Linked DNA regions of Homo sapiens. The protein of the gene in region 3 interacts with the protein of the main gene of each other region in a pairwise test. Each region holds a gene or a part of one and is shown on either strand. Other genes may lie near its edges. The genes, in order: TRIM55, MAP4K4, KIF5A, BACH1, FMR1, EXOC1 and ITSN1.

Evidence for each region.
Region 1: the proteins of KIF5A (region 3) and TRIM55 interact in a two-hybrid assay, tested with the Homo sapiens proteins (one large-scale study listed by BioGRID and IntAct).
Region 2: the proteins of KIF5A (region 3) and MAP4K4 interact in a two-hybrid assay, tested with the Homo sapiens proteins (one large-scale study listed by BioGRID and IntAct).
Region 4: the proteins of KIF5A (region 3) and BACH1 interact in a two-hybrid assay, tested with the Homo sapiens proteins (one large-scale study listed by BioGRID and IntAct).
Region 5: the proteins of KIF5A (region 3) and FMR1 interact in a two-hybrid assay, tested with the Homo sapiens proteins (one large-scale study listed by IntAct).
Region 6: the proteins of KIF5A (region 3) and EXOC1 interact in a two-hybrid assay, tested with the Homo sapiens proteins (2 studies listed by BioGRID and IntAct).
Region 7: the proteins of KIF5A (region 3) and ITSN1 interact in a two-hybrid assay, tested with the Homo sapiens proteins (2 studies listed by BioGRID and IntAct).

The regions. Positions count from the first base shown.
Region 1 is NC_000008.11:66,130,129-66,133,628, reverse strand, and holds part of TRIM55 (tripartite motif-containing protein 55), read right to left. Parts: intron 1-3,500. UniProt on the Homo sapiens protein: E3 ubiquitin ligase that plays an important role in regulating cardiac development and contractility, muscle growth, metabolism, and fiber-type differentiation.
Region 2 is NC_000002.12:101,889,707-101,892,448, forward strand, and holds part of MAP4K4 (mitogen-activated protein kinase kinase kinase kinase 4), read left to right. Parts: intron 1-1,459; coding exon 1,460-1,543; 3' UTR 1,544-2,742.
Region 3 is NC_000012.12:57,548,710-57,552,843, reverse strand, and holds the start of KIF5A (kinesin heavy chain isoform 5A), read right to left. Parts: upstream 2,801-4,134; 5' UTR 2,573-2,800; coding exon 2,444-2,572; intron 1-2,443. UniProt on the Homo sapiens protein: Microtubule-dependent motor required for slow axonal transport of neurofilament proteins (NFH, NFM and NFL). Can induce formation of neurite-like membrane protrusions in non-neuronal cells in a ZFYVE27-dependent manner.
Region 4 is NC_000021.9:29,336,922-29,340,421, reverse strand, and holds part of BACH1 (transcription regulator protein BACH1), read right to left. Parts: intron 1-3,500. UniProt on the Homo sapiens protein: Transcriptional regulator that acts as a repressor or activator, depending on the context. Binds to NF-E2 DNA binding sites. Plays important roles in coordinating transcription activation and repression by MAFK.
Region 5 is NC_000023.11:147,932,419-147,935,918, reverse strand, and holds part of FMR1 (fragile X messenger ribonucleoprotein 1), read right to left. Parts: intron 3,495-3,500; coding exon 3,324-3,494; intron 3,235-3,323; coding exon 3,156-3,234; intron 1-3,155.
Region 6 is NC_000004.12:55,856,648-55,860,147, reverse strand, and holds part of EXOC1 (exocyst complex component 1), read right to left. Parts: intron 1,835-3,500; 5' UTR 1,825-1,834; coding exon 1,701-1,824; intron 1-1,700.
Region 7 is NC_000021.9:33,897,501-33,900,361, reverse strand, and holds the end of ITSN1 (intersectin-1), read right to left. Parts: 3' UTR 501-2,861; downstream 1-500. UniProt on the Homo sapiens protein: Adapter protein that provides a link between the endocytic membrane traffic and the actin assembly machinery. Acts as a guanine nucleotide exchange factor (GEF) for CDC42, and thereby stimulates actin nucleation mediated by WASL and the ARP2/3 complex.

The DNA.
Region 1 (3,500 bases), on a different chromosome or scaffold from region 3:
TTTCAAAATTTTAGAATCTGACTGTTGCAAAAGGAATTTCTGTCTGGTCTTGCAGCAATATGCTTTCCATGAAGTCTATGACCTTCTGATTTGACCACATTATTTGGAACTCAAATAAGGAAGTCAACTCCACAATTGAGAAAATTATCCTCCTCTCAGGTCTGTCTGTTTCCTCCACTAGAATATCAGCTCCATAAGGGCAGGGGCCATGATGAGTCTTTTTTTTTTTTTGCTGCATCTCCAGTACTCGGAACAGTGCCTTGCACAGAGGCAGTGGCTCCATAAATATTTGTTGCACAAATGAGTGAGACAATGAAAGGGAATTTGACCTATTAAATGGACAGTATTCCCTGTGCTCTAGTGTAACACCACCCAGCTGGAGAAGGCATGGCAAATATGGGGAAAGCCTGGGATCACCTGGCACTCCTGAGTGGCAGAGGAAGAGACCAGACCACATCCTGATTACTCCTTTAATAAATGACAGTGCCCTCTGGGGTTGGGACTGGCAAGTTGGTCTCTGCCTGGTCAAAGGCTTCTTCCCCTCTAAACCCTTCCCTCGTAGGTATCTCCACCTTATTATTAATGTGGGCTAAGCAAGAGTGGGCAGCTTGGGTCCCACATGCTGTTCTGATATCAACAGCTGTGACCAGAGATTGCGTCATAGAGCACAGGTCTATGCAGTATATGCAAATATTGAAAATGTGAAAACAGCCATAAGGCTCTACATTTAGTTTTGTTTGTGATTCAATTTATTTATTTTTTTCATGGTGCTGTATACACTGAGAACAATTTCCCATATTCCTCATTGGGTTTTTCTTATTTAGGTTGTAGCCCAGCCCCAGAGGCACCACTTACTCATAGATGAGCATATAATGAAACCTCTGTACAACTTCAAACATGTAACTGACTTGGGACCGATTTGGCATGTAAAAGAATGACATAAATACATGTTTATGAGGTGAGAGCAGCCAAGCTCACAGCTGTGGTCAGGGCCCAGTGCTAAATGTTGGCTGTGGCCCCTCACCGTTCAGTGTAGGCTAGACTGAGAAGTATGTAGCCTGCTGTCTCTGGTCTCTGAGGTTCCCGGGGCCACCCTAGAGTTTCCTGAGGAGTGGGCATCTGGTCTTGGTGAGGCAATTGAAGTAGTAACTTTGTAGTCAAACTGATATTTTTTTTGAGATGGAGTTTTGCTTGTCGCCCAGGCTGGAGTGCAATGGCTCAATCTCAGCTCACCGCAACCTCCACCTTCCCGGGTTCAAGCATTTCTCTTGCCTCAGTCTCCCAAGTTGCTGGGATTACAGGTGCCTGCCACCACACCTGGCTAATTTTTTTGTATTTTTAGTACAGATGGAGTTTCACCATGTTGGTCAGGCTGGTCTCAAACTCCTGACCTCAGGTGATCTGTCCACCTCAGCCTCCCAAAGTGCTGGGATTATAGGCGTGAGCCACTGTGCCTGCCCAAACTGATCTTAAAGCTTCATTTCAGCTCAGCTTCTCCATGTAGTGGCTATGTGGCCTTAGACAAGTTACTTAACCTCTTCTGGTCTCAGTTTTTACTCGTATCAAATATCAGATTAAGGGTCTTCTAATTAAATGTGGCAGAATGAACACAAGCATGTATTTATTTATGTATTTATATATGTATGTATGTATTTATGTATTTATTCTGCTGAAATCCCAGTGAAATGAGGATAAGGAAATAAAAGGGCATAAATCAATAAGGACAAAAAGTGAGCACAGATGACAGCAGATGAGAGATGTCAACCAAATGTTGGAAATTAGGAACATCTGGATGAAGGGACATGACCTACTTGAGTTGCATCTTAGTTCTGTTACATTCCTGCAGTGAGAAGCTTACAATAAGCAAGCTGACTTGAGCTATGGAACCCTGGAAAGGCTCTGGAACTGCAGGAGCCAGTAGTCCTGAAGGTGGAAGTAGGCGGTGACAGACTGGGAGAGGCTGAAAAGAGGAGGACTTTGTGCATGTTTTAAGAGATTACTTGAGGATGTGCTCCATAGAAATAAGAGAGTAAGCCACCAAACAAGGAGACCTGGAATCCAGGGAGCAAGGGGTTCAACCCAGGGGGAGAGTAAAAGAATTCCCAAGTAGAGGTAAAGCCCAGCCATGTGAGGGCTCAGTCCTAATTGTCTACAGTGGAAAGTCAATAGAAAATGTCTAAAATTGAAAAATCAAAGAATAGGAGCATACCAGTAGTATGCACATGTCATTGGTGATAAATAGCAGAAAAACAGCTAAAAGAATTAAAAGTGGTTGACTCTGGGGAATGAGGCTTGGGGGTGGGTAAAGAGAGAACAGAGTGGAGACTGCATTTCTCTTCAGAGGCCCAGTAGTAATGAATTCTAAAAGTTGTGTATGTTGATTACTTTAAGGCACTAAAAGCTTTAATAGGGTAGCAGTAATTATAATAATCAACACCTCACCGGATTATTGTGAGAATTAAAGAATTGCACATGATTCATGTGTTAGGCACCCTGAACAGTGTCTGGCATGCAGCACATAGTAGTTTTACTTGTTATATTTTAAAGTTAATTATTATTATATTAATTATTAATATTAGCCAAAATAGTACCTTCTCTTACCATCTCCCACTCCCAACTGTGGCTAGTCTGGCACCATGCAGAATTCTGGATAAGAATGCCAAGTTTTGGCTGGGCGCAGTGGCTCATGCCTGTAATCCTAGCACTTTGGGAAGCCGAGGCGGGTGGATCAAGAGGTCAGGAGATCGAGACTATCCTGGCTAACACGGTGAAACCCCATCTCTACTAAAAATACAAAAAAATTAGCTGGGCGTGGTGGCAGGTGCCTGTAGTCCCAGCTACTTGGGAGGCTGAGACAGGAGAATGGCGTGAACCTGGGAGGCAGAGCTTGTAGTGAGCCAAGATCACGCCACTGCACTCCAGCCTGGGAAACAAAGCAAAACTCCATCTCAAAAAAAAAAAAAAAAAAAGAATGCTAGGTTTTGTGGAGACTTACAGTCTCCAGCCTTTCTGGAGGAGGTCAGAGTTGACTGACAACATCCCAGTCTGTGATTGGTCACCCCCCCCGACCCCCTTCCAATAGCCACAGCTGAACTCTTTTCATTCTGTATATCCAAGGTCATTCCAGTGTTACCTAATGTACCCTGAGGCTCAAGATTCTGGTCTAGTAAGGCTGTCTGCCCCCAGGGGACAACTGCGTTTCCTCCCAGACATGTGGCCAAGTGCTCTGTGCAACTTGTGGTTTTGCTACCAAGTAAAATTGTCCCACAGGAAAGTCTCAAGTTCAAGAAAAAACAGCATAACAAAATCACAGAAAATCACAAAAGCATCCCTAGTTCACTCAACTATGAGCTTTATTGTTGGAAATTTGGTTCATTGCTTTTACGCAATTTACTTCCCAGGCCTGGGTACTATTTTTGGCAGCTGCACCAAGCCAACTTCATAGCTAAGGTGAAGATGTGTTTTGTAGTTTTACCAATACTGCAAGTTTTAACATCTCT
Region 2 (2,742 bases), on a different chromosome or scaffold from region 3:
CTTTGAAACTTGGCCCTGAAGAACGTTTCCACCTTTTGCGTCACATTGACAGACTAGCAGTCAGCCCAGTTCTCAGATTTAAACATTTAGTCATTTAATGCAAGAAAGAAGAAGCTACACATATGTCCTTGGCAGCTGGTCCTGCTTGCCCGATACATCCCAAACACAAAGTCACTTCACCTCTACCCACTGTCTTCTGCAACCCTACAACTCAGTTTCAAGTGGAGTTTTGCCTACAGATTATCTCCCAAATCTGTGACCTTGAAAATCTCTACAGCTCAGACCTAATCCAGGATTTTGTCAGCTTGTTGGCTTATACTTTCCTAAGTATGTTTACCATAGCTGCAACTATAGCATTCTTTGAATTTCAGGCATTTAAATATTTTTATCATGCATGTCATGTCCTTTAAGATTTATTAATAAATGGCACAAAAATTCTATTTATGGGTTATATGAAGTAATTAATACATTTTTTGTTGATTTTTAAAAAGAAATTAGGTTGTTAAGGAGTCTTCCGTGATGCTCATTGTGTTTTTTAAAGACATTTATTTATTAGAAGGTGTTAACAGTAGAAGTGGAAAGAAATAACTTCAGAAACATCCATTTTTTTCCTTTGTTGTCTCACAATATGCCAACGTGTAAGGAGTTAGTAGTAACAAGCCTGAGTTGTAATAAAAATTGGCTGCAGATGGTCACTCCTTACAAATTATAAATTGATAATTGCCCCAGAGGTTTTTGTGGGTTGTTTTTGTTTGTTTGTTTGTTTTGGTGACGGAGTCTTGCTCTGTCGCCCAGGATGGAGTGCAGTGGCGTGATCTCGGCTCACTGCAACCTGAACCTCCTGGGTGCAAGCAATTCTCTTCCTCAGCCTCCTGAGTAGCTGGGATTACAGGAGCCCACCACCATGCCCAGCTAATTTTTTGTGTTTTTAGTAGAGATGCGGTTTCACTATCTTGGCCAGGCTGGTCTTGAACTCCTGACCTCATGGTCCGCCTACGTCGGCCTCCCAAAGTGCTGGGATTACAGGCATGAGCCACCATGCCCAGCCTTTTTATTTATTTATTTATTTTTTGAGACAGAGTCTTGCTCTGTTGCCCAGGCTGGAATGCAGTGGTGTGACCTTGGCTCACTGCAGCCTCCACCTCCCGGGTTCAAGTGATTCTCATGCCTCAGCCTCCTGAGTAGCTGGGATTACAGGTGTGTGCCACCACATGGTATTTTTAGTAGAGATGGGTTTTGTCATGTTGGCCAGACTGGTCTGGAACTCCTGGCCTCCCAAAGTGCTGGGATTACAGGTGTGAGCCACTGCACCTGGCCTCAGAGTTTCTTTTGAAAAGGCTCTTTGGGAGTCTAAGCTTCTCGTACTTGACAGTGTTGAGGATGATGGTGGCTTAGATTCCCTGGCTGGAAGTGCTTCATGACCATGGTAACCATTCCCTCTCTTTTCTTGCTTTTGCAGGTGTTCTTTGCCTCTGTTCGGTCTGGTGGCAGCAGTCAGGTTTATTTCATGACCTTAGGCAGGACTTCTCTTCTGAGCTGGTAGAAGCAGTGTGATCCAGGGATTACTGGCCTCCAGAGTCTTCAAGATCCTGAGAACTTGGAATTCCTTGTAACTGGAGCTCGGAGCTGCACCGAGGGCAACCAGGACAGCTGTGTGTGCAGACCTCATGTGTTGGGTTCTCTCCCCTCCTTCCTGTTCCTCTTATATACCAGTTTATCCCCATTCTTTTTTTTTTTCTTACTCCAAAATAAATCAAGGCTGCAATGCAGCTGGTGCTGTTCAGATTCTACCATCAGGTGCTATAAGTGTTTGGGATTGAGCATCATACTGGAAAGCAAACACCTTTCCTCCAGCTCCAGAATTCCTTGTCTCTGAATGACTCTGTCTTGTGGGTGTCTGACAGTGGCGACGATGAACATGCCGTTGGTTTTATTGGCAGTGGGCACAAGGAGGTGAGAAGTGGTGGTAAAAGGAGCGGAGTGCTGAAGCAGAGAGCAGATTTAATATAGTAACATTAACAGTGTATTTAATTGACATTTCTTTTTTGTAATGTGACGATATGTGGACAAAGAAGAAGATGCAGGTTTAAGAAGTTAATATTTATAAAATGTGAAAGACACAGTTACTAGGATAACTTTTTTGTGGGTGGGGCTTGGGAGATGGGGTGGGGTGGGTTAAGGGGTCCCATTTTGTTTCTTTGGATTTGGGGTGGGGGTCCTGGCCAAGAACTCAGTCATTTTTCTGTGTACCAGGTTGCCTAAATCATGTGCAGATGGTTCTAAAAAAAAAAAAAAAAAAAAAAAAAAAAGGAAAAAAAAAAAGAAAAAGAAAACGTGTGCATTTTGTATAATGGCCAGAACTTTGTCGTGTGACAGTATTAGCACTGCCTCAGTTAAAGGTTTAATTTTTGTTTAAACCTAGACGTGCAACAAAAGTTTTACCACAGTCTGCACTTGCAGAAGAAAGAAAAAAATTCAAACCACATGTTTATTTTTTTTTTGCCTACCTCATTGTTCTTAATGCATTGAGAGGTGATTTAGTTTATATGTTTTTGGAAGAAACCATTAATGTTTAATTTAATCTTAATACCAAAACGACCAGATTGAAGTTTGACTTTTATTGTCACAAATCAGCAGGCACAAGAACTGTCCATGAAGATGGGAAATAGCCTTAAGGCTGATGCAGTTTACTTACAAGTTTAGAAACCAGAATGCTTTGTTTTTACCAGATTCACCATTAGA
Region 3 (4,134 bases):
CAGTCACAGGAAGGAGTAGGGGCTGCATTGGGAAAGATTATCTCTCCCACCTTCACTCTTCCCGCACCTTCCTAGACATCCTGAAGCAGCCTCCCCCATTAATTCCTAAGCCAGCTCCCGACCTGGTGGGCTCCAAAAAGAGCTAGAGGGGAAAAGAGAAAAAGGAGTAGGAATTTCCTTCCCTTGTTGGGACCCTCAAGGGTCTCCTAAAAATCATGTCTCCTGTAGCCCTCATTCCCTAAATGATGAATGAATATTAAGTCTGAAAAAGCAAACTCCAAGGATGTTGCCTAAGACAAAATGGCCCCCCCGTAAGCATTTATCTTCAAGTGAGAGATTGACAGGGAGGGCTAGGGTGAGGGAAGATACGAGCAAGACAAAGGTACAGCCCTACAGATATCAGGCAAAACAGACAAGGAAGATCCAGCTGTGGAGCTGAGATGGAATCTGAATTGGCAGGGGGCCTGGGGCTTCTATTCATCTTTCCTCCTTGCCCACCTCCCACTGTGTGTCTCTCCTGTTTAGCTGGGCTAACAACAGATCGACACCACACCCCTCTTACCAACATCACCCCCTGCCCCATCCCACTATACTAGGATGGCCCAGAGAGCCTAAAGGAGTTGGTTCAGTCTTACTGGAAAAACCTCCCAGAGCAAGGAAATTGGGCCTAAAAGTTTTGCCCCCATCATCACCCTCCTCCTGTTTCTCAGCCTTTATGTCTCAGGGGGATCTGAAGCTCCAACTCTCACAACTAATGCTGGCTATCCAGGACACTCTGAGAGGGGTCCTCCAGAGTTGATCCAGGAGTTGTTTTGTGGTTGTTTTGTTTTGTTTTGTTTTGTTTTTAGCCCAGCCAGACTGAACAGACTGCAGGGCCAGCGAGGTCCCTGAAGCAAAAAGAAACAGAGGCCCTCTCCATGTGGCAAATACATACACAGAGAGAGAGAGAGAGAGAGAGAGAGAGAGAGAGACCAAAAGCATCCATTTGAGTTAACAGTGTGGGTAAGGGTGCAAGGTGGTGACAGACTGGGGCCCTTGGGGACTGGTAAGCAGGTCTCCCCCGAAGCATGTTTATTCAAAGTCCCATTCTCACTGACTCAGAAGGCCCAGGCTTCCTCCCCTTCTTTCCTTCATTCCTTTAACAAGCCTGTGTCCAGGTGCTCTGTGCCAAGCACTGTGGATAAAGATACATAAGAAGCACCTCTGACCTTGACTGCCCTCGTACATGCCCCTCCCTCCTCAAGCTAGTTTTTGTTTCCTGGCCCAGCACCCCTCAAGCCCTACAGGACTCGACCCCAGATCTTTTCTCCCCACACACAGCCTGAGGTCCCTACCAACCTCAGGGGGAGTGGGCAAGGCCTAGAATTTCCCTTTGGGCCATTACAGATAAAGGTGCAGAACAGAAACCTGGGTAGGCAATGTGATAGAAGAGATGGGAGGTTTGCAGTCACAGATTTAGGTTCAGATCCATGGATGAATAGCATGACCTTGAGAAAGTTATTCAAGTTCTTTGGGCCTCAATTTCTGCATCTGTAAAATGGAAATATTGATACTACTTCTGAATGTTGTTTTGGGGGTTAAATAATATACGTAGAGTAACAGGCCCACTGTTAATATTAGTTCCCTTAAGATATCCTCCTTGGGTAGGGCTGTCATGATGAGGTAGAGCTGGATGGCTACTTTCTATTGGATCCTCAAGAGAAAGGATGAATAAGCAGGTACTGACTAGGATCTCAGGGTTTGGGCATTTTTCTTTAGGGGGGTCAGTTGGGGAATCTGAAACCCTCTTCCTACTGTACCTGGGACCAAAAGGCAGACCTGACCTTAGGATTCCAGAGGCTCCCCCCAAGATTGGGTGTGGCATCAATGATTTCTTTCCCAGTAAACCCTGCATCAGACCTACTCCCCACAACACACACACAAAAATCCAGGCTATAACTACTTTAGGGAATGATGGAAGGTTTGGTCTTAGAGCCCACTTCCATCCACACTCTGCAGAGACCCTGGACTGCTCACCTCCCATCTAATCCACCCAAAAGTCTTCCGCCTTACCTTCCGGGAGGTGGGGGTAGAGATCTGAGCCAATAACAAAGGGAAGATGCGCTTTCTCTTGGGGAGCGGGTGGTGGAGAAGGGGAAAACATCAGAAAAACATGGGACTGGTTCTAACGGGTGGAGACGCTGCAGACAGCAGCAAAGGGGAGTTGGATCTCCCGAAGGTAGGAAAGCAGCCCCCTGCCACTCTGCAGAGACTCGGCCGCTGGCCTGGCCAGGCCACACCCAGCCATCCTGATGCAGGGGAGAGGAGGGGCTGCGGGGAAGAGGATGAAGGATGAGCGGCGGGGAGGGGGAGCAAAGGGACCAGCAGAGACTAAGGCTCTGCGGGGGGCGGGGAGATTCAGCCACCTGCCCCCTCCCCGAATTCCCTCCTGGGCGACACTCACCCCAATAACGACGCTGTCGTCCCCTTGGAAAATGGGGATGAACTTGTCTCCCCGCAGAATCTCAGCCTGGTTCAGGGGCCGGAATCGGCAGAGCACCTTGATGCTACATTCGTTGTTGGTCTCCGCCATGGTGGTAGCCGGCGTGGGGCTGGGACTCTTCTTGGGCTGCAGGGGTGGTGTGTGCTCCAGAGGAGAGGGCTCTCAGCAGAGGCCGAGGCGGAGGACAGGTGCTCAGTCTCTGGGGACAGAGTTGAGGGCGCCCGGGCGAAGCCTGGGGAGCAGGGCCGGGGCGCGCTGTCTCTCTCCTGCGGCAGCGGGATGCGGGCGACCTGGGCGTCTGGTCCTTTCGGGCTCTCTGCCTCTCCGCCCCTCGCGCTGCAGCGCCGCGCTGCGGGCCTGGGCGGGGCCGCGATGGAGGAGCGGGGGCGGGGCTCCCTCCACTGGGGACGCTGGCTCGACGTCGACCCCCGAAGGGTGGAACCTCACCGCTCCTCTCCTCCCTCCCCCACCCCTAACGTTCGGAGATAACCTTGCCCTCGACCCTTCCCCACCCAACTCACTGCATCCCACCCCTATACCCCCGACCTGTTTGTCCCTCCCTCAGACTCCACCCCCTGGAAGGGATAAGGGGACTGAGGTGGGCCTGTCGCCTGTGTAGCGAAAAGGGTCAACAGATCTCCCTCTCCCTTTATTCCAGGGCATCCCCCAACCCGTCACAGTCCTCTCTCCAAACTGGGATCACACTTCTCATTCTCCCCCTACGCCCATCCCATGCCCCACATGCACGGAAGCTGGACTCCCAACCCACTCAGCTTTCTGGGGGGACCCCTGCCTGTACTCCTATGAAGTTGGGTGTCGTGGGAGGTTCTGGCTACTCCCTTCCCCTTCCACATCCAAAGGTGCACTATACTGTCTCCCCAACGTACACACCAGGTCCCCAGTTTCAGGGAAGATAAACTCCCATTCTGGGTTATGGGAATTCAAAAGCAGATACAATACTTATTTTTGTGTCCTAGGCTGAGGATGGGAGGAAGATGGGTGGGAAACATCTTTGCAAGAGAAAGGGAGTCAGAAAGCAGTGAAGGAGGGGCAATGATGGGGATGGGTAAGGCCAGAGAGACTTTGAAGTCTGAGGCAAAGCCGGCATTTGGGTTTCAGGCAAATTCAGATACCTACGGGAGTGTGTGTTTTCTGTCTCAGTAACCATTGGAGGATAGAGTCCCAATACTTCAGCCCCCTTCCCTGGCCAAAAAAAAAAAGGTGTGGGGGAAGAAAAACGAAAGAAATGCCAAGCCCAGAGATTCCTTGTCCTTCCTTCCTTTGGGTCAGACTCCTGCTGCAGCCCCTGGAAAGAACCACCAAGAAGCTGGCCAAATTGATTTTTCTCCATGTCACAGGCCTCTGCTGGCCAACAGAGAGTTGGACTGCAGGAGTTGAGGTTCTAGGCAAAGAGGAAGGGCAGGGTGGATGGGAGAAGGAGGAGGAAAGGAAAGTTCTGCTCAGCAACTGTCTGGTGAGTGGTTAAGGTCACTTAAGACACTATGGGACAAAAGTAAGAGGCTGATAGCCTGGCCAGACAAGACCTAACTATTCAGAACTCAGGGGGTTTCCCACATTGGGGCTACACCTCTAACCTACCTTGAATCTTAAGGGAACTGAAAGAAAAGAGTCCAACATAAGGAATGGGACAG
Region 4 (3,500 bases), on a different chromosome or scaffold from region 3:
TGACATCATTCTTTAAGTATACAAGATGGCTTGCTTCTTCACAACAACTAAAACAAATAGGCACAGCCCTAGAACTCCACCAGAATTATTTCTATAAATTAAATGTTCCCATCTGTTCCCCTGCACTTTAACTCCTACACAGCTAAGCTTCTAAGCAGTTTCCATTTCACTCTAAGTTTAAGACACATATTTACTATAATAGCAGTCAGCTTAATAACTAAAAGTAAAATACAAGTAATTCAAGTTAATTACTTAATGACATCAGTATTTAAGATACCTCCCAAAGTCACTACTTACAGTCATGAGTGGGACTCACTATTAGTGTCCTGCTACCTATCCCTACAATATATTTCCATTTTCCTATAAAAACAACTGTATAAATCACGTTTGAAGTGCTGCACCTTTAATTAGAGCTATTTCTTAAAAAGGAATAAAATTGGCATTCTGGTACCATTCTGGATTTTATACCAACAAAAAATCTTTACAGGCTGGGCACAGTGGCTCACGCCTGTAATCCCAGCACTTTGGGAGGCTGAGGTGGGCGGGTCATGTGAGGTCAGGAGTTCGAGACCAGCTTAGCCAACATGGTGAAACCCTGTCTCTAATAAAAATACAAAAAAATTAGCTGGGCATGGTGGCACACACCTGTAAACCTAGCTAAAAGGGCAGGCTGAGGCAGGGGAATCACTTGAGCCTGGGAGACGGAGGTTGCGGTGAGCCGAGATTGTGCCGCTGCACTCCAGCCTGGGTGACAGAGCAAGACTCTGTCTCAAAAAAAAAAAAAAAAAAAAACCTTTGCATCTAAATCCTTATTTTGAATAGCTAGTGCACAATATTTATTCAAATATAATTTTTTTAAAGATCATAAATATAACTCACCCAATAAAGATATAGAAGAATTTGGCACCAAAAGTACAAGTGACAATTTTATGATAGGGTAAAGAGTACTCACTGTTAGAAAATGGTCACTAATAGTTCCTTAGTAAGTAAAACCTCTGAACGGCAGTTCAGAGAAATCTGCAAATGGCACTGAGAAATATAAGCAAAAATGCTCATTTTCACTCATAAGATAAAAATAAAAGCTACCACGAGATATCATGGTATCTCACTATCAGACTGGAAAAAACCCAAAAGCTGACAACAAATCTTGACTGAGGGTGTGGACAGACACACACACATATACTGCTGCTGGAAGGCCAAATATGACAATTCCTAAGGAGGGGAATCTGTTAATATCTAATAAAATTATGTATGTATTTACCCTTGATCCAACAATCCCACTTCTAGGAATGTGTCCTAGAGACACAGCTCCTTAAACATGAAACAGTATACAGTTATTCACTGCAGGATCCCAACTGTCCACCCACAGAAGACTGGTTTGAACTGTATTACAGTCACTACTGAGTACTATGGAGCTGGAAAACGAATGACAACCTCTCTGAACTAAGAAAAAATATTTCCTATAAATCAATTCTTAAGTTTAAAAAGTACAGAAAAATGTATATAAAATACTTCCATGCAGCAGGATGGATAATAAGAGTAGACATAAAATGTTAACACATTTTTAGAAAAGAAACACAGGGAAAAAAAAATCCAGAAACTAATGAAAATGGTTACCTATAGGAAGTAGCTATGAATAGGGTATAAGGAGAAGATGAGATCAAGATTTGGAGTATATATTTTTTAAAATATAGTTTTAATGTTTGAACCATATAAACGTTTTACATTCAAAATAAAACAAATTAAAAATGTAGGCCAGGCATGGTGGCTCATGCCTAAAATCTCAGCACTTTGGGAGGCCAAGGCAGGAGGATCGATTGAGCCCAGGAGTTTTGAGAGGAGCCTGGGCAACACAGCGAAACCTCACCTTCACAAAAAAATTACCCGGGCATGGTGGTGCGCACCTGTAGTCCTGGCTACTCAGAAGGCTGATATGAGAGGATTTGCTTGATCCCAAGAAGTCAAGGCTGCAGTGAGTCATGACTGTGCCACTGCACTCTAGCCTGGGTGACAGAGTGAAACCCTGTCTCAAAAAATGTAGAGTAAATCCCAGTAATATAAATAGAAAAAAAAATTAATTGTATGCCAAATTGGTAACACAAATATTTCAAATAACTTTAAAGCTTCACACTGGGAAATATTTAAGCATAAAAAAGCAAATAAATCTCAAATTCTGCTCAATTTGTTTACTGTTAATAGTAATACTGATTGTCTAATTTTCTTACTTTTTATACAGTGTGCCCTCACTTAAAATCATCGACAGGTTTTTGGAAACTGACTTTAAGAGAAACAACGCACACCAGGTCCTCAATAAACATTTTGTTCCACATCCTTTCTTTTTTATTTTATTGTTTATTTATATTATACTTTAAGTTCTAGGGTACATGTGCACAACGTGCAGGTTTGTTACATATGTATACATGTGCCATGTTAGTGTGCTGCACCCATTAACTCGTTTTTTTTGTTTTTGTTTTTGTTTTTGTTTTTGTTTTAAGACGGAGTTTCGCTCTTGTAGCCCAGGCTGGAGTGCAATGGCATGATCTCAGCTCACCGCAACCTCCACCTCCCAGGTTCAAGCGATTCTCCTGCCTCAGCCTCCCGAGTAGCTGGGATTACAGGTTTGCACCACCATGTTGGCCAGGCTAGCCTCGAACTCCTGAGCCACCGCACCCGGCACATTAGGTATATCTCCTAATGCTATCCCTCCCCACTCCCCCACCCGACGACAGGCCCCGGTGTGTGATGTTCCCCACCCTGTGTCCAAGTGTTCTCATTTTTACAACATCCTTTCATTATAAAGTTGATGAGGAAAAAAACTGGTTTCATTATCCATCATTTCATGTTAAGTGAGAACTTACTGTATATTATAAAGGAAACAATACACTAATGTAATTGGAGCCAAAATTTTTCCTGTAAATGATGAGAGATTAAACATAAACACAGAAGTGAAGACAAAAGCTCTATACTGCTAAATTTGGACTGGAAATACTACATAAACTCAGGATTTCTAATGTACTTTTTACTTTCATTTACTGAAGCCTGATATATATGAATTCATGATATAATGAACTTTATTTTATACACAGATGCATATATTTCCTAGCTCTGTCCACTGAAAAAGGCCCAGAAGGAATAATACTCCAGCAGCAGGTAGGCTTTCCAAAGTCCAATATAACTGCTAGAAGAAACCAGGAGTTTTAAAGAAATGGGTGATTCCAAATCTTGAAACAATAGAGGTTAAAAAGTGAGACCATGGCAAGTGCTAGATGGTTATGTCAACAGGACAGGAGCTGGCTTGAACGGGCTCTCCCAGGCCAAATTTGAAAAATGTCAACATCAAAAAGAATAATGACTATTACTTATCCTAACAAATTGAATCAGAAAAAATTAATCCATGAGTCCACTGTGATTCCAAAGAGTGGGAGGGAGGGAAAAGAGAAAACAAGAAAAGGCCAGGCATGGTGGCTCATGTCTGTAATCCCAGCACTTTGGGAGGCTGA
Region 5 (3,500 bases), on a different chromosome or scaffold from region 3:
CAATGTGTTAACAGAGTATCACTCCTGTGCATTACTTACAAACTTTAGCAATGTATTAAAAAGTGAAGGGATTAGTCACAGAGTAAAAGATTAAGAAAACCCACTTTAAGATAACTCAAAACCACAATGAAAAAGCTTTAAACCAATTTAAGTATTTTTCAGTAACATCTATTAAAACTTGGGATTTCAAGTACCAGTAAAAAATAGGTACTTGATCATTTCCTTATTTATTTTACAATCATATACATTACTGGAAAATGACTGCTTTCATTTGCATCATGACACGAGTGGTAAAGCAAGACATTACAAACTTAAGAATTACTAATTCTGGAAATGTACATGTGAACTACATCTGATTCTGAGGGCTCACCCAAGGTACCTAAGTACCCTTACATTGGCCACATCCACCATGTGCTTGCCCTCACCATCTCATCTTCCATTTTTTCCTTTTCGCCTTTAAAGGCAAAGCTCAAGGCAAAGTTGGGGGAAAAGATGGAAGCAAAAATTTGCTTTGAGCCAATGCTAGATAAGAACTCAGTGAAAAGCCTTCTCACAAAAAATTCTTGTGGCTCTTGTAATCAGAGCATAGCTTTGACATTCTTGCTGTGTGTGGCTGCCTCATTCACCCCTAGAAACTCTTTGACTGGTCATAGAACAGATCTGACACCATTAAATCAGGATTCTTGGTCTAGGTCCTTCTGTCAATTATTTCTGTTCTTCTATAACGAAAAGGGGAAAGGTGAGGTGAGAGAAGCTACTTGGAGTCTTCACACAGTTTGATTTTAAACTGCAACACTTACATTTTCATGAATTAATGTTGACTTTAATAAAGATCTAAGTGAGTTAACAAAATGAAAAATGAGATTTGGGGATGTTTTTATTAAGATAATATCTTAATTATCCTAAGTACTGTGTGTTAACTATAGCTGACTGAATAGTCATACCAATTCATTCTTAGTGAGTGAAGAATCCAATTTTAATGAAAAGATAAATTAGTGCACATACCAAAGAGAGTTTGTGAAAAATAGAGATCACAAATAACGTTGGTTGACTCAAACAAAACACATGCAAAACTGATTATGACACCTCTCTAAAGATCTGCCTTGCAGAATCTTACACAAAAATGCTTTCTGAAAAGTTCCAACGTTCCCAGTGTTGCAGTGGACCATCTCTAAAACAGAATTATCTCATTTTACTAACTAGAAACAACAAAACAAAAACAAGGCTGATTTACTTTTAGCAGTCTTTCTGGTTATTTCTGAGATCCTCTTCTTTCCAGGTAACCACAGGTAGAATCTACTTTTAATATTTAATAGCAAATAATCCAATTCTACATTACACTTATTTCCAAATCCCAAAGAGCAATTTACTGTGATTCTGTTCTACTGAAATGGAGTTGTTTTGAATAAGGTGAAGAACAGAGTCCCCTACTGTGTCCAGAATTGTCCCCTACTATATCTTCCAATTTAATTATCACATCAACTCTATGAGGTGGATCCTATTATCACATTTGATAGGTAAGAAAAATAATTCTCAGGGGGGCTAAGACAGTGACCCACGCTCACATTGCCACCAAAGAATAAAGTAGGACTGAAATCCAGATCCAACTCCAATGCCCAAGCACTTTCCCCACTACCATCATGCCATCTTCAAAACCAACTTTAATGAATCTGACACATAATTCTCTACTCATTTGCTATTAAAAAAAAAAAACAAAACAACTACCAGCTCTTTTTCCATAAGAATTCCTAAATTTACAATAACCTTTCTAACTACAAAAGGTATGCAATTGCTTGACAAGCTGTAAAGAAGAAAATAAATATTATTCATCACCCAACTGTCTTGAGATTAGCACTTTATCTTGCGCTATGCATACATTCTGTACACATACAATTGGTATGCAAGTTACCTTAGTAACATTACAAACACATTTCTCCAGTTGTCTGTAGTACACAGTTGAGCTAACACTTCTGCATTATTTTCCTACTATTTGCACTTTATCTTCAAGCTAATTTTCTTTGGGAGATACATTTATCATTTCTAGTGTTTGTTAATGACAAGGAAGATGTTTATGAGTCTATGCTGACAAAAAAGCAGGCTAAATTAGCATTGAAACTACGTAAACAGAATGTATGAGAAGTCCTTGCTTTCTTCTTTAAAGTTTCCAAAGAACATGTATTACTTTATATAAAATGGCCATGATCTCAAGTTTAAAAGATAAAAAACATATAGGCAGTATGTCCCAATTTTATTTACAAATTAAAAACATATGTAGCTTTCTTGATAAAACTGCACCTGGTTTTGATATGTTCTACTAAAGATATCTGCAGCATTTAGGAGTATTGGTGAAGAGCTCCTAAATATTTGCTGATACTCACGATGGTGATGGTGATAAAACACTACTCAAGTCAAAATGAAGAATTACTATTGACTTTGCAGAAAGTCCCAGAGACATCTGAAGTTTCTTCTAGCTTTGGAACTTTTTAGATTTAAGTAACCTATGTTCAGATCTTCAACCCTGAGATAATTAAAATGAATGCTATCATTTTATAGTCCCATAAGAAAGATCAAATACAAATCTATTTCAAATCATAAAGTCCCCAAATATCATTCATTTTGAAAAATTATTTAATTTTAAGATATAAAAGGTATACAGTCAGGAGGGCTGGGCAAGATTTATCCTTTCAGGTATTAGTAGGTTTGAACTAGAAAAGCAATCTCTTTTGAATACCTTCTGAAAATGTAACCTTTGAGCATCATACTTAACAAATATTTTTTTGTATGCTGTAAGAACAGATCGATTGAACAATGAGAACACATGGACACAGGAAGGGGAACATCACACTCTGGGGACTGTTGTGGGGTGGGGGGAGGGGGGAGGGATAGCGTTGGGAGATATACCTAATGCTAGATGACAAGTTAGTGGGTGCAGCGCACCAGCATGTCACGTGTATACATATGTAACTAACCTGCACATTGTGCACATGTACCCTAAAACTTAAATAATAAAAAAAAAGAACAGATCATATTTCAAAGACTATGTTTCAATTAAATGATACCCTCCAGTAAGAAAAAATGGAATTCTATCACTATAAATAAACTGTTTACCTAAACTTAGTTGTTGTACTATATGTCAACAGATACTTCTGACTTACCTACTAAGTTCCTTGGAACTTGTATTACATCTTCAGCAAATTCGAGAAAGCTTCTAGCTTTTTTCACTGCATCCTGATCCTAATAAAAGGGGAAACATTTTAAGACAAAAGATTAGCCAGCTGAAATACTTGTTTGGGGAAAAAAAAACTATGCAGTAAAATATTTACCTCTCCATAAATATGAAATGTGCAGGTATCTTCATCTAGATCAATAGCAGTGACCCCAGGTACTTTTCTAGCTTGCTGAATATTAGCACCATGAGTACCAATAGCTAGACCCATCAGATCTTCTCTTACGATAAACTGTTCATGAAATCTCGAGGCAAGCTGCCTTGAACTCTGAAG
Region 6 (3,500 bases), on a different chromosome or scaffold from region 3:
AGGTAAAAATCTAAAGAATGATTGACATAAGTAAAGTCTGTGAGGCTTGAAAGAGCAAAATACCATTTCAAAGAGCAACAATACATTTATATATAAAGTTCTTACTATGTTGCCCAGGCTGGTCTTAATTAAACTCCTGGGCTCCAGCGATCTGCCCACCTCAGCTTCCCTAAGTGCTGGAATTACAGGCATGAGCCACTGCTCCTGGCCTAAGAATTTCTTTATAGCAATGCAAGAATGGCCTAATACAAATACATTACGATTGAGTGAGGTCATTCTAAAAAGTCAATTTATCATTTCAAAAACCAAGTACAATTATATACTACACTAACAAGGAAGAAAATTTTATGATATCAATGATATGAAAAAGCAGTTGATAAAATTCAACTCCCATTCATGATTTTTTAAAAAAGTGTAAGAAACCAGGAATAGAAGGGAACTTACTTAACACTGTAAAGTATAGCTATAAAAACCCTATACCAAATACCATGCTTGAAAATGAAGTCATTCTCCTTGAGATGGAGACTGTATTGATAGTCCTAACTAGGAAACTAAACCAACAAAAATAAAAGATATAAAAACTATAAAGGAAGGAAGAAAAATATCACTACTTTCAAAAAGTCTACATATAATTAGAATTAATAAGAAAGTTTGGCAAGATTGATAGACATCCATATAAAACACCAACAATTCATTGTAGAATTCTAACAATATATGATTTTAAAATGTATTAATGTTAATAAGCGCTTTCACGACTATCAAATAAAATCTAAGAATAAACCAATACTCAGGAGTAAATCCAAGAATATACATGACAAACCTTTAGAGAAAATGATGAAACTTATAAAGTTAAAAAACACCTAGATAAATAGAGAACTGTACCATGTTCATGGACACAAAGATTCAATACAATAAAAATGCAAGTTCTCTCCAAATTGAACTATAGGTTCAAAACAATTCCAATCAAAATCCCAACAAAGTCTGAAACTCGACAAGTTGTTTCTAAAATTTAGGTGGAATAAAGAACAAAAACAAAATAAAAATAACATATAAGATGACAACCAGAAATGCTCACACACACCATGACAGATGTCAACACAGGTGAACTAAGACTAAACTGTAAAAGGCAAAATTATAAAACTTTTGAATTTAGGAAAATATTTTTATGACTGCACAAAAGATACAGGGAAGGATCTTTTAAGACACCAAAAGGGAAAGCCATAAAGGATTAATTAATTTCATTTAGTTTAAATTATAAATTTCATTAACAGGCATCATAAAAAGTGAAAAGACAAGCCACTAACTGGGATGCATACAACCAACAAAAGGTTGATAACCAGATTATAGAAAGAACTTGTACAAATCAGTAAAAGGACAAGCAACACAACAGAAAAATGAGTAAAAGGCTTAAACAGGTAAATTTCATACACAACAGAATGAAATGACTAAGAAATTCATGAGAAGATGCTCAATCTCATCATTATAGGGAAATATAATTTAAAACCACAATGAGATACTATTTCACTGCCACCAGATTGACAACAATTAACAGCCTGTCAAAGCCAAGTGTTAACTAGGAATGTGTTGACCCAACAATTTTTCCAATTACAGAGACAATGAGGATATTCAAAACAAAGAGGAAATATCTTCTAAATAATAAAAGGATACAAAACAAGTACTCTTTCTTACTAAATACCCACCTGTGGCACATAAAAAACAGTTCTTTTTCTTTTTTCCTGCTTTGCAGACATTCACAATGCTCAGCAGGCGTTCATCATTTGGTGTAAAAATGTCTCTTTGTAATGCATGCTTGATTGCTGTCATCTTTTCTCAGCTGAAAAATGTGGAGTATAGATATTAAGCTCACCCTCAACATCATTCCATCTTATACTTCTGAATTTATGATTTGAAAATAATTTTTGGTTAACAAGCCTAGGAAAAATGATTTAATATATGAATACACCTATATCACAAAAATACAAAGCTGTAAGTTTGGAAATAAAATTAGAGAACCAGTGTTATCAAACTCTAAAATGTTTGGAAATGCTCACCAAGTATACACACACACACAAGATTTAAGAAAAAAATCTTCAACCCACTGCTCAAACTTTTAATATAGTTTTCTACATAAAGAACCCTTACAACAATAAGAAGACAAATAACCCCATTAAAAACTGAATAAAAGACCTGAACAGACATTTTTCCAAAGATATACAAATGGCCAATAAGCATATGAAAACATGCTTAACATCACTGGCCACTAGGGAAATGCAAATCAAAACCACAATGAGGTATCAACCACTTTACACCCATGAGGGTGGTTAAAATAAAAACGATAGAAAATAACAAGTGTTGGTGTAACAAGTGTTGGTGAAGATGAGAGGAAACAGAACTCTCATACATTGCTGGTGGGATTGTAAAATGGTGCAGCCACTTTGGAAAACAGCTTGGTGACTCCTCATAAAGTGAAACATGGGCTACCTTATAATCCAACAATTCCACTCCAGGAGAACTGAAAACATATGTCCACACAAAAATTTGTACATGAATGTTCATGGTAGCACTATTTGCAATAGCCAAAAAATGGAAATAACAGAAATGTCCATCAAATGATACATAAGCAAAATGTGGTATATCCATACAATGGATTATTATTCGGCTGCAAAAAAAACAAAGGGCCGGGCACGGGCGGTGGCTCACGCTTGTAATCCCAGCTCTTTGGGAGGCCGAGGCGGGCGGATCAAGAGGTCAGGAGATCGAGACCACGGTGAAACCCCGTCTCTACTAAAAATACAAAAAAATTAGCCGGGCATGGTGGTGGGTGCCTGTAGTCCCAGCTACTGGGAGAGGCTGAGGCAGGAGAATGGCATGAACTCGGGAGGCGGAGCTTGCAGTGAGCCGAGACTGCGCCACTGCACTACAGCCTGGGAGACAGAGCCAGACTCTGTCTCCAAAAAAAAAAAAAAAAAAAAAAAAAAAGAAAAAAAGGAAATGAAGTAATGAAACATGCTAAAATATTGATGAATCTTGAAAAGATTATGCTAAGTGAAAGGAGTCAGCCACAAAAGACCACGTATTGTATGATTCCATTTATATGAAATATCCAGAGTAGGAAAATCCATAGATACAGAAATATAAGTGGTTTTCGGGAGCTGGAAGGGAAGGTGGAAACGAGGATTGACTGTTAATGGGTATGGAGTTTCTTTTTTGGGGTGATGACAATGTCTTTCAACTAGATAGTAATGATGGTTATACAACCTTGTGAATATGCCAAAAATCACTCAATTATACAATTGAAAAGGGTAAATTTTATGATACATAATCTCAATAAAACTGTTATAAAAATAGGTTTCCACTTATCTCCTTTTTCTTATCTAACTCAGCATCTTTTCAAACATCAACTTAAAATAATTTTAAATCTCTATTTTATTTTTCATATACATATTTGTGTGGATATGTATTACAATTTTTCAATGCAAATGTGTAGTATTTCATACATG
Region 7 (2,861 bases), on a different chromosome or scaffold from region 3:
ATAGGTAGGAATGGCCTTAAAACCAGAACAGGAGGAAACAACCTAATACAATTCAGCGTTGGGTTTTATGGAACGCAGAATTATAGATCACCCAAGTGCTGAACACGTGGAGTTACGTGTGTTAGAAACTTCTTCCTGGAAATTCAGCGACCCTTCTGAATGTCTTTATAAGAAAATCAGCTTTTTGCACCGCCCTCTCAACCCCACCCTCAGAATTTCTTATGCTGTACAACACAAAACTTCTCCTGTTCTCACAAAGACTTCGTACACAGAAATCTATTTCTGCTTGGTGTTAGCTAACATTTATCTGAAGCCGCAGGACAGCTGAAAGGGTTGTTGGTTGGTTTTGTTTTCTAGGTTTATTTCTGCACAATTTTCCTTGCACAGCTACAATCTTATCTGTGGGAAGAGGAAGAGACACCATTTGCAGGGCTGTTAGCTTCCTGTGCTCTCAGAAAAGAGTGAAGCAGAAAGAACCCAAAATAATCCACTATAACAGATTGGCTTTTCTCCTTTTATTCATGAACTATTTGAATTTAAACCACACAGGTCAAAATGACCAAAGAGTTGTTTTTTGTTTTTGTTTTTGTTTTTGAAGAGATTGTTCTTTTTAGGTTCAAGATACACAGGAAGAGCAATTTGTACTGATGTTGCTACTGGTTTAAAGAAAGGTCTCAGTTACCATCATCTTAATCGGTAAAATTTAACATTTCACACATAATAAGTTGCCAAAGGAACACTCAAACAGCAAAAACAAACCTCAGCTTCTTTCAAACAAAAAAGAAGAAACAATGTTTTGGCCCTGCTTCATCAAACCTTTAGACAAATACGTAAGTCTACAATTTATAATAGTGTCTAGTAATTCTTAGAATTCCATTAACATTACATATCAGACAATATAGTCTCTCTTTTATGGAAAATTAAACAGTACCATTATTTGGCAACAGAAGTATATTACAATCAACAGCACATCCATCAAGGGGCGGGCCTGGTCCTACCCCTGGGCAGGGCTGTGAGGGAAGCAACATGCCACCAGCACTGTGGCCCGCTTGTCACTGGAAGCACAAGGAGCTCACGTTCTGATGGATTACATTCTTTTCCAAACAGGCAAAGGCTATCTGGGAGGGTTCGCTAGCACTCCTGGGAAGGGAGGGCCCCATGTTCTAGCTTTTCTTGTCCCCAGACTTTTTTGAAACAACCAAGGCCCAAGGGACAGTTGACTGGCTGACTTGTTTCCACTCACAGCCCTCTTGCCACCCCAGCCAGAGGGCATCGTTCTAAGGAAGGAGAGTCAGGGCCTGTTTGGGGTTGGTAGACCAGAGCTCATCTCCTCTGCTGGCAGGCCTTAGGTGGCCTTCCAAGGCTGCGCCTGAACAAAGAAATCTCTGAACAGCTCCATCTTTGGGAATAAAGCCAGTTATGGACCACATGGACAGTGCCTCTAAGTGATTTGCAGATTATTCATGCACCTAAATAGATTCCAGGAAGCTTCCAGAAATCACAGCTTCCCATACTCCTGAAGTCAGCAGCTTTACTGGTTCGGGCCTCTCAAAAAAGGGGCTCCAGTTGCTGGTTGACAGCATTAAGATGCACGCAGCCTGTTCAAAGAAATGTTGAAAACCTAACACATTCTTCAGATGTCTTTTCAGACCACAGGCCCTCAACCTTCCACCAGCGGTGTCACCCCCAAACACAATGCATTCAGATCACCAGAAACCAGCTCTTTTTGTTACTGCAGTATTTCCAGGCTGCCAGGGGAGGCTGGACTCCTGGGGTTGCCCCCTCCTGAAATCATTTCTGAATGCCTTTCTCAGGGGTTTAGACATTGAGTTTCACAGAATCCTCCTTAGGTGGCCTAAGGGGCACTTCTGGTGGCCAAGTACAGAAAGTCTGTGCCCCAGAAGCAGCCTGGACTTCTGATCCTTTTCTGGGAATGCAGACGGGAGGAAGGCATCTTCCCCCTGGGGTCTCCATGGAAACATGGGCATCCAGAAGCCTGCCCCAAAACGGCTTAACTCAGAAACCCTAAACCATCCATCCACCCACCTGGCTATGCAACAGTTGAAGACAGTGAGGATGCATCAGGAAATTTCATGGAAAACGCAAACGCTAATTAGGGATAAACTGAATCAATCCAGATACAGAAGTAGAAAGGGCGACCTGGAAGTCAGAGAGTGGCCTCTCTAGTGGGATAGCTGCGTCAGCCCCAGATCCCTAACAAATCCACTAGAACCCAAGGAAGCCTGCGTGGCACATGGATCTGATGAAAAACAGGCTCCCTATCCTCTCATCCTTCCTGACACAAGTACCCTCTCAGATATGTGATCTGCAAAAATCCATTTTTAATGCAACACCAAGGTCCCATGCGAGGTCATAGCTACAGGATACTTTTCATTTGATCACGCCACCATCCATTACACTGAAATTTATCATATTTCCTGCAGGAAAAAAAATGACTCATTTGATTTCTAACATATACAACTTGGAATTTTTTTTTAATATAAGAAATTTAGTTGAGTTGAACCCAAGTAATCTCATTAAGCATTTTCTACTCTTGGAATAGGTTTTAAATTTTTTTCTATAGTTTTATGCACTTAAATTAGATTCCTAAAATACTCTCATATACATACAGAAAAATAATCTCTCAATGACAAATCACATTTTACAATAACAAGTTAAATATTTTTGACTACAGAATCTGTGTTAGTTTATGCAACATTTAACAGCATGGCCTCTTACATACCATATATACATTTAGTCATGGCCATTCCATAAACATACAGCAGAGATTTCATGAGGAACATGAAATGAATACAACCTTTTCCCTTTATATAGTGGGAGTTCGCCTTTTTCTTAGCTGG